Linked DNA regions of Homo sapiens: region 2 is linked to region 1. Evidence: fine-mapped expression QTL. A gene starts in region 1. The other region holds a variant in brackets. All regions are shown on one strand. Distances are from middle to middle. Region 1 holds the start of SORBS2-AS1 (SORBS2 antisense RNA 1). Region 2 has its middle 5.5 kb from the start of SORBS2.

What was found. PIP is the estimated chance that this variant, and not a neighbour inherited with it, causes the effect. A credible set is the group of variants that fine-mapping cannot tell apart.
Region 2: its variant is the best candidate, but not a certain one, in a credible set for the expression of SORBS2-AS1 in pancreas (GTEx, PIP 0.84).

What each region holds. Positions count from the first base shown.
Region 1 is chr4:185,585,412-185,590,798 of GRCh38, forward strand. It overlaps SORBS2-AS1 (SORBS2 antisense RNA 1), which reads left to right and starts at 2,514. Exons shown (of 4, transcript NR_186082.1): 1 at 2,514-2,779; 2 at 3,743-3,818. It overlaps SORBS2 (sorbin and SH3 domain containing 2), which reads right to left. Exons shown (of 27, transcript NM_001395207.1): 26 at 4,268-4,374; 27 at 112-2,277. The coding sequence ends at 2,216. RefSeq lists enhancers at 1,611-2,810, 2,089-2,168.
Region 2 is chr4:185,815,022-185,820,408 of GRCh38, forward strand. It overlaps a transcript of SORBS2 not described here. Among named protein-coding and RNA genes, the nearest start is that of SORBS2, 5.5 kb to the left of the region's middle. The variant C/G (reference allele first, on the strand shown) is at 2,125.

The DNA.
Region 1 (5,387 bases):
CCATGTTTGTGTTAAAAGAACACACAACAAAATGCATTTTCTCTTAGTTTAACAAGTTGGAATAAAATACACAATTTTTATAAAGATAAATGTCAAGAAGAAAAACTGAAGTATACTTCCAAGCAAAATTTATTAGATGTCTATTCAAGAAAAACACAATGACCTTTGCTTGTAAGAATTCAAAGTCAATTACCTGGAAGCCAGGTATGAATAGTTTTTTCTTTTAAAATCAGATACAGAGAGTAGAAACAGTAATTTTTCTTAAATATGACAGGCAACAGATATTGAAGTCTTTTCTCATAAATGGCATCAAAGAGAATTATTCATTTATCAGCAAAGCTGCATGCAGTTGACTTAATTTCAAACCTGAAGCCTTTAAAATATGAAGCTGGTTATGAACTTGACAGAAATCAAGGTAGGCTACTCAACGATGTTTCTTTACCTTCTTCCTAATGAAATTCCCTTGTCATCAGTCAGTAGATATGTACATTTCATTTGGCTTCTACGATCTTTTAACTTCATAGATTTTTGCATAAATGCTATCTGACAGAATCACACTATCTAGGGGTGCTTGTGATCTGTGAGATAAGGAGAGGCTAGTCTGCTGAAAGTGTTGTCGCAGGATAAAGACCAAATTAGGAAACGCCCCTGTTTTCTCAACAACTAGTCTGTACAAAAAAAGAGCAAACATATGTACAAAATTCTAGAGGCTACGTACATTGTGAAAAGATCAATATCACTGTCCATGAAAGAGATGCCATAAAAAGTTTTATCTGTAAGGTGCTCAAGATCCAAAGATGAACAGTTCTTATGCAAAGTCATAAGAAATACAAAGCTAGTTTTCGGAGCAGGTGTAATTCAGGCACTGTGAACCATATTAAACCTTCCAGGTCCCAATATCATTTTTTAAATTTCTGCTTCAGGGCAGAAAATAAAACCTGAATGATTTAACATTGCTTCTAAAAAGTGCCTAATTTATTCCTAGGAAATATTTTACACACACCAGGAAAATCAGGCTCAACATATTCCTGTCCTCAAATGTAGCCAGGATTCTGAGTTCCATAGAAGAAAAATAATTATTATAGTAAAAATAATTGTAGTAATCCTAATCCTTGCTAAAACCAACTTTAATACTTGTGATGCTTCTGTACTCTATTTCTATAAAATAATGTGTGAGATTCTATTACATTTCCATAAAATGTACAACATATCATATGGATTATATGTTCTCATACAATCTCAAATGTGTATGTGTACACACAGTGAAATCTTACCTACTAGTATTGCTTACAGATACTTTCAGGTGTCTGTTAGAATAATTCTTTGCACCTCTCACTAACACTGCTTTTACTTACATTTTTTCAGATAAATAAAACACTAAGAGCTCATTGTTCATGATGCTGATCATTACATTTTAATATAAAATAGCGATGCAACTTTACAACACAATAGTTTTCCCCTGTAGCCTAGCTCAGCCTCTTGTATTGTCATGATTATTACCGAAGGCTTTTATTTACTTACTGTTTGCACTTCTAAAAAATGCAAACAAATTGCAGAAAAAGACTCCTATTTGAAAACTCACATTCAATCAGCAAAATCACACTCATCCAAATTAACTCGCCTCCTCTTGCTTTAAAGGTTGTAATCACTGTGCATATTACAACATGTATGTGCAGGCAAACAATAGCTAAAGTACAGTTACAGTTGTCATATTGTGTAAACCAAGACACTAGGCAAACTTGTGAAAAGAATACACACTGCCAAGCGAAGAATATGAAAATGCAAACCACAGCATTCCCCAATAAACAATTTTCTGGTCGTCTTGGGGGAGAACATCGCCTGGGGGGAGATGTTGAAATGGAGCCACGAGGCTGGACAGCCTCCTGGAGACACTTTTTTTTTTTTTTTTTGCCTCAAATATTTGACCATTTTTAAATATCATGATTTTTTTCTTTCTGATCCCACATTTTGACGTGTCAAAGCTTAGAGCAGGAAGTAGGAATCCACACTTTCACGGAGGGGGACCAGCCTGCCATGTCGTCCCCAGGCTCACAGCAGCGGCGGCTACTCTGCTGGTGGTTTGGTGGCAGGTGGAGATGGTGACGGCGCATTGGAAACCGTAAGGCATGACAACGGGAGGCCCGCGGGGTGTTTCAGGCGCGTTGACGCAGGTGCATGGCTGGCAGGCGGCCTCTACAGAAGGAGGGAGCGCAATTCACAGCCTCTTGACGTAGTTTCCGGGGAAAGTACCAAAGAATTTGGTTCTTCTTGAGGTCCCTGAAAATAGAAGCGAGTCATGAAAGGGGGGTGACAACGATATCAGTTCATACACATGGGCTTGAATACTTCCCATTTACAAGGCCTCGGAAGACAGCAAGCCCCGAGGGGTTTGGAAAAGAAGGCAGGCAACTCACATGAAGCCCATAGGCAGACAAAATAAGCAGTGTTAGCTGGTTGCCTGACGCTCTCACTGCCCCTCCGGCATAAATGCTGCGCTGCCATCGCGGCAGGCTAAACAGAAATGCTGAGCCTCCCAAGCTAAAGGGAAAGTCAGCCCTGCTGAGGAGGGGGGCGGAGGAGCTCAGTCACTGAGGCTGCCACACCAGAGTCGGGGGTGAGGGATCAAGGCGAGGCTGACAGGTGACAGGGTGAGTGGAAAATCCTAAGAGCAAAGCTTCTCAGGGACCAGCAACCCGCGCAACACAGGTGCGACATGAAGACATCATCTGTGGCAGGCTGTCGCTGTTCCAACAGTTTTATCATCTTACAGAAGATCATGGTCAGTGCCACATCATTTATTTAAAAACAGCACTGCCAGAGTCCTTCATCGAGTATACAATTTTTCAACAATTTACAAATCATTAATGAAAAAAAGGATTAAGCACTATTTGTGTGTGGGAGTTCTATCAGTGGCATGATTTTTAACATGGTGTGTGTTTAACCACACGCACAAATGGCTATCATAATTATGTTCGCCTCTGGTTTCAAATAATGTAATTCCTTGGACACTTCTTGTAAAAGTTGGTGCACTAAATTGCTAAATTCTTCTTTAGGCAGCGCAGATGGACCGGATAAGGGTCTCTCAAGCTTCATCTGTCTCCTATATCCTGGCACTTACTGCCTTGGTTTGATGGCTGTTTTTCTTTTTCCTTGGCTAGGCAAGCCATTTTACGTTTCTCCTCCCTCCTCCTCCTCCCTCCTCCTCCTCCTCCTTGTTTTTGAGATGGAGTTTCGCTCTTGTCGCCCAGGCTGGAGTGCAGTGGCATGATCTCGGCTCACTGCAACCTCTGCCTCTTGGGTTCAAGCAATTCTCCTGCCTTAGCCTCCTGAGTGGCTGGGATTACAGGCACCTGCCACCAAGCCCAGCTGATTATTGTACTTTTGGTAGATACGGGGTTTCACCATGTTGACCAGGCTGGCCTCGAACTCCTGGCCTCAGGTAATCCACCCGCCTCGGCCTCCCAAAGTGCTAGAATTACAGGCATGAGCCACCGCACCCGGCCTTTTTTTCTTCTTTTAATGGAAATAAAATCAGAGGCTTGTGGCCGCACCAGGGCCTCAATTCTTTCATGATTTTGCCACCGATGGATGTCTAGAGTGAGCCCTCCTCTCCTCTCACCTTTCCTCTCTTCCATTCTCTGCCCTGCAGCCTGTGTTTCCTTTTCACCTCTTTCTGTGGCCCAGTGTAAAATACTTTTGTCTACAAATGTTTTCCCAGAAGACCTCTCGTCTTTTTTTTTAGGATGGTAAAGATGAAGTTGCCTTTTAAGTGGGAAGAATGGAACGTCTCTCTGCTTCCACCACAAACTAAAGTTAAGGTGAGTCACTGAATGTTCGGGCATCTACGTCAGACCTAGGAAACGGGAGAGCTGTTCACTTAATCTCACTCCCTCTGAAATTAGATTCTCACTGTGGACAACTAACATTTTCCACAGCACAGAGCGTTGATATTTCTCTTCTGGGGACCATTTGTTGTTGTTGTTCTTAGATCTCAATCTTTCCTGGTTTTTGCTATTTAAAGAAATTGTCTTCTCTCAGTTGAGTTGGAAATAAAGCTCGCAGAAAATCACACATAGCTGAAGCAGTGAATACTAAACTATATTAAAAATGCAATAGCCTTGGGATTACATTGTGCATATGAATGTCTGAAAGATCAAAGGCATTACGAATTCAAAGGAAGCTCGGCCATCACAGCAAACCACGGGAGTGAGCAAACTCAAGCAAATTACAAAATAGCCGAAGGTGCCTGAGGAAGAAGCGCACATACCCACAAACCAGCCGTCATCACACTTTTCCATGACATCAATGACATCACTTTCTCTGAGCTCCAGCTCATCTTCATTCCTGGGAGTATAGTTATACAGAGCCTGAAACCTTAAACAGGACAAGGGAATGTGTTTAAAAACATCTTGACACCTTCATGAAATATAGAAGATAGAACAATATTCATTCTTCCTTTAACATTCCTATTCTTAACAACATTCTGTTGGGTGGTACAAGCCTGGTAAGCATGTAAATAGCATTCTATTGGATGGTACAAGCCTGGTAAGCAGGTACATAGCAATATGTAGATCTTCACAGGCATTAGAACACTCTAACAACATTTTGAAACTCACGAGGAATATCCATGAAAATTGTAACATTCATAAATTGGATTAAAATATGTCAACATGTATAAGTCAGACCCGCATTTCAGTTGTCCAGCCATCTAACGTCTATCATTTAGACATTAAATAATAGTACAAAATATAAAATAAGTGATATTTGTATTATTTAACTGTTTAAAAACAAGAAGGAATCACAATTTTAGCTAGCCATAATCAGAAGCAAATAATGGGGGCTTGAGAATTGAATTTTCAAAGGTTCTAAATGGAGATAGACAAAATGTGTCAGACATGTCTTTTTAATCACTCTGTGTGAATTACTATACAAAGGAAAATTATTTTTTTTACTAAGAGGAATTCTTTAGATCAGTTTAATGTTATGGTTTGGATCAGTGTTTTCTGAGGATGTAGAATTGGAAGATTTGATGTAATTAGCCTATGAAGTTGAGTAGATGTATTCTATGTGCAGTTATTACTGATTCCATTTCAAGCAGACTATGGACATAAGTCTCTTTTTAAAATGAGTCCCAGAAAAATTGTATTTGATTTTAAAACTCTCTCTTGAAATAATTTTATATAAAAAAGAATTATTGATAGAATGCTATCACTTTCCTTTCCCGGCCTGAATTCTTTGACAGCATATACTGTGGTGGAAATTGATCAATAATGAATTCAGACACTGAATTTGTGGTAAGAAAACACCATACATTATAATAAATAGTAACATGGGCTGGTGTTTTTGGAAAATGAAGGCGAAATTACTGTAGCTGAGAAGGTCAAGAA
Region 2 (5,387 bases), 230 kb after region 1:
CTGAGTCAAGTGAGATACCACCTATGTGGCCAGCAGCTTTATACATGGGCTGCCCTGTGCCTTGGTCCAATCAGCTATGACAAGGACACTTGGCATTATCTAGTTTTAAAATTTTGCTAATATAATAGGTGCAGAGTAATGGCCCATTATTGTTTGAATGTGTGTTTCTCTAATTACTGACAAATTGAACATCTTTTCATTGTTGATGGTTTTCAGGGTTCCCTCTTCTGTAAATTTTCTGTTCATAGCTTTTGCCTGTTTTCTCTATTGAGATTGTTGTCTTAGTGTGGAATTTTAAACAACGTGGTCATAAAGGTATTTTTTATATATATTTAAACATTATAATTAAATTTGTTATATTATTAAAGGTTATTAAGATATCCACTAACATATAAAGGGAACCCTATAATTCACACTGCTAGTTGTTTTGGTTTTTATTATGAAATGAAAATACAGAATGTGTGTGAAAATCTCCATTCAGAAATTATGTTCAGTATGAAAGCGTAGAATACCACACCATAATATGATTTTCTAAGACAAATATTTGTTTAGAAGGATTTTCAAACAAATATATTATCATCAAAGAATACATATACACACACATATATATGCTCTAATAGTATACGCACACACATATATATGGAGAGAGAGAGAGAGCTATCTATCTATCTAGCTTCTATTTTAAGTTATACCGTATGCACACCTACACATCAATCAATCTACCTATCTATCATCTGTGTATCATCTATGGAAGGCAAACACAAATGTGCAAAATGCTAACACCTGATGAATCTTAAATGAGAATATTTTCAGTTTATTTTACTATTCTTTGCACTTTTCTATAAGTTTGATTTGTTTTCAAGATACAAAGTTTTAAAAAATGAAATAAAATGAGAATAAAAATAGTGTTTAGAATAGACACAGAGTTAAGGTTAAGATTAGTTGATGAAGACATAACTATTTATCAGAGTTGAAACTAAAGAAGTTAATAAGTTATGGAGTAACTAAAGTGATTACTACCATTACTGTTACTCTGAGGAGGCTACTCTGGTAGAGAGTATTGGAAACATTTTGCACTTTCTTGAAACAAGTTTGCTATTTCCCTACATTTACTGCTTCCCTGTATTCTGATCTTAAACCATTTATCCTCTGGTTCGTATTTTGAAATCCTTATTAGTCTGTTTCCTTAATTCAACAAAATCATCACTGCTTGAAGCAATAGGTTCTTCTCTAGTCACATCTTCTGCTGCAGACTCCACAGCTGGGACCCACCAAAGGATCTGGTCCCTGGCACAACAAAGAAACACGTCATATGACTTAACTTAGAGACTGGAATTGAAGCATGGTTTATGAGGTAGCAAAGACTTTTGTAAAGCTTAGATTGAATTTTCTAATTCCTAAAACAAATAAAATAGAATATCCCAAAGGTTATTCCAAAACCTTGCATATTTAGTTACTCTCACAATGACGTGAACAATGTCAAAATAGGACATTGATGGGAAATGTGACAACTGACTTAGGAGGAGGATTGAAGTATCTCAGTCAAACAAATTGGATTTATTTCTATGATTCCAACCCCAAGAAATATATGCTGGAAAGCAGACTGACCCACAGGCTACTAATCAAATGCGTTCATATCCCCTGAAGAAGTATGACCCTGATCAGTATCCAGAATGACTTTTATAAATCAGAGGTGCCCAAAACCAAAACAAACCCAGCAGAGTTGAGGGTTTTTGGAAATTCACTTATCAAATGAATTTAAAATGAGAAAATGATTATAGAAGAACAAAACCTTGCCAGAGAGCAAATGATAAGAACGTAAACATCAGCAATAAAAAACCGTTCAACAAACTGGAGAGAAAGCCAAACCTATTAACACAAAAACACTGTGTGTAGCCCATTAGTTGTTCCTAGAACCCCCTAGAAATTCTGTATACTCTCTAGGTTAAGAGGAATAAGGAAAATGTGGCAAGAGGTACAGGAAGAAGTTTCAGCTAGTCCTAAGTCTGGAGAGCCCGGTCTTTACTGGCTAATAATAACAACATTGTTTTAAATATTTCAGGTTTATCAAGCTTTGGGTTTGCAAATGACTATGATTGCAGCAGCTTACAGGAACTACTTTAT[C/G]GTAAAATGTGTGTTAATATGTGTCAGTACCAGGTGGGGAAAAAATAATGGTGTTATCCAATAATAACAAAAGAAAAAAAAAACCACCCACAATTAACCCCCTCCCACAGCCCTGTTAACCAGTCCCAAACATATAAATACATCTTGCTGTAGCTAGAGAAAAGTACTCCTGGCTTTTATTAAACCTGCAGTGGGGAGAGATTCTGCAAGCAATACAGAAAAGGCTGCACTTGCTCCCAAGGAATTTGACTGTTTATACTTCATAATGATAAGCTTAAAAAGCGACCTGGAAAGAGAGGGCTGGCTGCTTTCATGCTCCTGTGAGGGGCCACACTTTGTTCTTGGAGAGGCACTCTGACCACATTAATAGAGTGTAGCTCCCATGACCTTTCCCACTTAGCATTGTGTCCTGTGGCAGCAGTGGCCCCCAGGTACTTCCGGGCAACGTGCCACCCTACCCAGTGCAGAAAAAGCACTGGGCTCTGCCGTCACGGCATTGTTGAATTAGTAACGAAACGCACCAGGCTCAGCAAACAAAACCTGGCAAGAAGGATTTTAAAACAAATGCTTCTGGTTTCACCTGAGCCACTGAAACAAATTAGAAGGTGCTGGGTGAAACTGGGCAGCTTCCGTAAACTCTGAAGAAGATCATGCTAAAGCCCTCAGCTGCCAAATGTGCAAATCTCAAAAGAAGTGAAAATTAGAGGGTCACCTTGTGTCTTCTAGAAGTGCTTCTGAAATACATGTTCAGTAAGATTCATTGGTCAAGATAATAAGATGGGCCCAAGTGATGTATTAATACAATCAGGTACACGTTTTAGGATCCAACGGTCCAACAACAAGTGGAAAATACTGTTGAAAAATAAAAATCCCCAATCCGCACTGGAAATAGTAGATGTTCAGTTAAAGGCCTGACAGTGACAGCACGTGCAGGTAGGAAAAATAAACTATGCGTGCTTGCAGAATATTGGATGGGAGCTATAACCCAGAATGGTAATTATTTTACTAAGCCTACCCAGGTCAGAATTCAGTGCCTATGTGTTTGTTTGTTTGTTTGTTTTTGAGATGGAGTCTCGCTCTGTCGTCCAGGCTGGAGTGCAATGGCACAATCTTGGCTCACTGCAATCTCCGCCTCCTGGGTTCAAGCGATTCTCCTGCCTCAGCCTCCCGAGTAGCTGGGATTACAGGTGTCCGCCACCACACCAGGCTAATTTTTTGTATTTTTAGTAGAAACGGAGTTTCACCATGTTAGCCAGGATGGTCTCCATCTCCTGACCTTGTGATCCACCTGCCTTGCCCTCCCAAAGTGCTGGGATTACAGGCATGAGCCACCGTGCCCAGCAGCCTATATTTTTAAAAGTCAGACTCTGGCATCCTAATTGCCAGATCATTGCCTTGAACTGAGAACATTCTTCTGGACATTTCCTGCATCAAAGGAAGACTATTTGAAACATTCCTTGTGAGAGGTCAGGAGATCGAGACCATCCTGGCTAACACGGTGAAACCCTATCTCTACTAAAAATACAAAAAATTAGCTGGGCCTGGTGGTGGGCGCCTGTAGTCCCAGCTACTTGGGAGGCTGAGGCAGGAGAATGGCATGAACCCAGGAGGCGGAGGTTGCAGTGAGCCGAGATCGTGCCACTGCACTCCAGCCTGGGTGACAGAGCGAGACTCTGTCTCAAAAAAAAAAAAGAAAAGAAACATTCCTTGTGAGGTTTAAAGTAGCATGACAAATCATTCCACAACCAACTTTCCTATAGGCATAAAGGTAGATTTTAAAAAATTTATCTGAGAGCTGATACCTGACCTGCATCTTGAAGGACCCATTATTCTCTTGGCATGTGGACTCTTTCCTATATCTTTCCTTCATTAAAGACATGGTTTGCTTCCAACAATTGGAAGCAAACTCAAGTTGTGTTTCAATTTTTGGTAACACATGAGAAAGTCTTATCACAGGATCAGGATTGGCTGCATAGGAGAGAAAGCTCAAATAACAGGGCTTACAAGAGACAGAGCTATATTTTTCTCTCACTTGAAGGATTGAGAAATAAGGAGTTCTAGGCTAGTAGAAAATTGGCCTCATGATTATTAGGACTCTAGCTCCTACCCTCTGTTCTGTCATCTTTTGAAACTGGTTTCTATCCTCAAGAATCCTCGTGGTCCAGAATGGCTACTTGTGCTCCAGCCATCAGGTCCATGTTCCAGGCAAGAAGAGGAGAGGGAGAGCCAAGGGGCACATTTTCCGCTTGAGTTGGCCTCTTTGAAGGAGCTTTTCCCCACCTCCCACCCAGCACTTCTGCTGATATCTCATTGCATCCTGAGTGATAAGTAAGTCTCAAAAACGTGGTCTTTTCAGCCGGACGCCTTTTGGTCCCAGGTAAACCAGTGTTCTACTACTGAGAAACAAATTGATAATAGGGAGTGGATAGACAACAAGCTGCCTCTGCCAGCTCATGTCAGCCTGGGTACAAAGAAAGTACTATCTCATTTCTGGACATTGTCAGTGAGCCTTTATTCCTGGCTGGTCACCTGTCAGTGCAGGGATCACCCAGGCTGACTCGGTGGGTTGCGGAAGCACCCTTCCTTCATTCCTGCCTGGGGGTGTCCTTGCCTATCCAGCCACTGTGCTTAACTCCTCAGCACAGACTCAAAGCATTGCCATCTCTCCTTATACTGGTTTCATATCAATATCTCAAAGTATACTTGTTCATTCACTGTGGAACAAATAAATAAATGGTGTGGATTCAAATATTCTGCAATTTGTTAGCTGTGTGATATGCAAATTGCCTAACCTCTTTGTGCTTCTGTTTCCTCATAAGAAAGGATGATAATATTATCTAATTCTGAGGGCGGTTGTGGCAATTAAATCCATTAATTAGCATAAAAGGGTATTAGGTATTATCTTGAATTTTGTATCTTTGATTTATGGTGCGGCACTGGGTGGGCACGGACCTCCGGGACCTTCCAATACCGTGGGAAACATCAGCTGGACGTGGACCAGAGCGTCAAAAAGCAACACAAATGCATGTGTTCATCAAAAGAATGGTCCAGACGGTGAGGGCCGTGGGCTTCAGCAAAGGAGAAACAGGCACTAGTGTCATCAGTGGGAACTTATCGCAGGCTCCCTGCAACCTCACCTGGACAGCGCGGCGCTGTGTGAACAGCCAGCAGGAGGCCTTTTCGCTTCTGCCTCCTGCTTTCCTTCCCGGCTGATGTCCTCCCCTCCCCTTTAATTTAAATTGGCACCAGTTTCCTATTCTCTC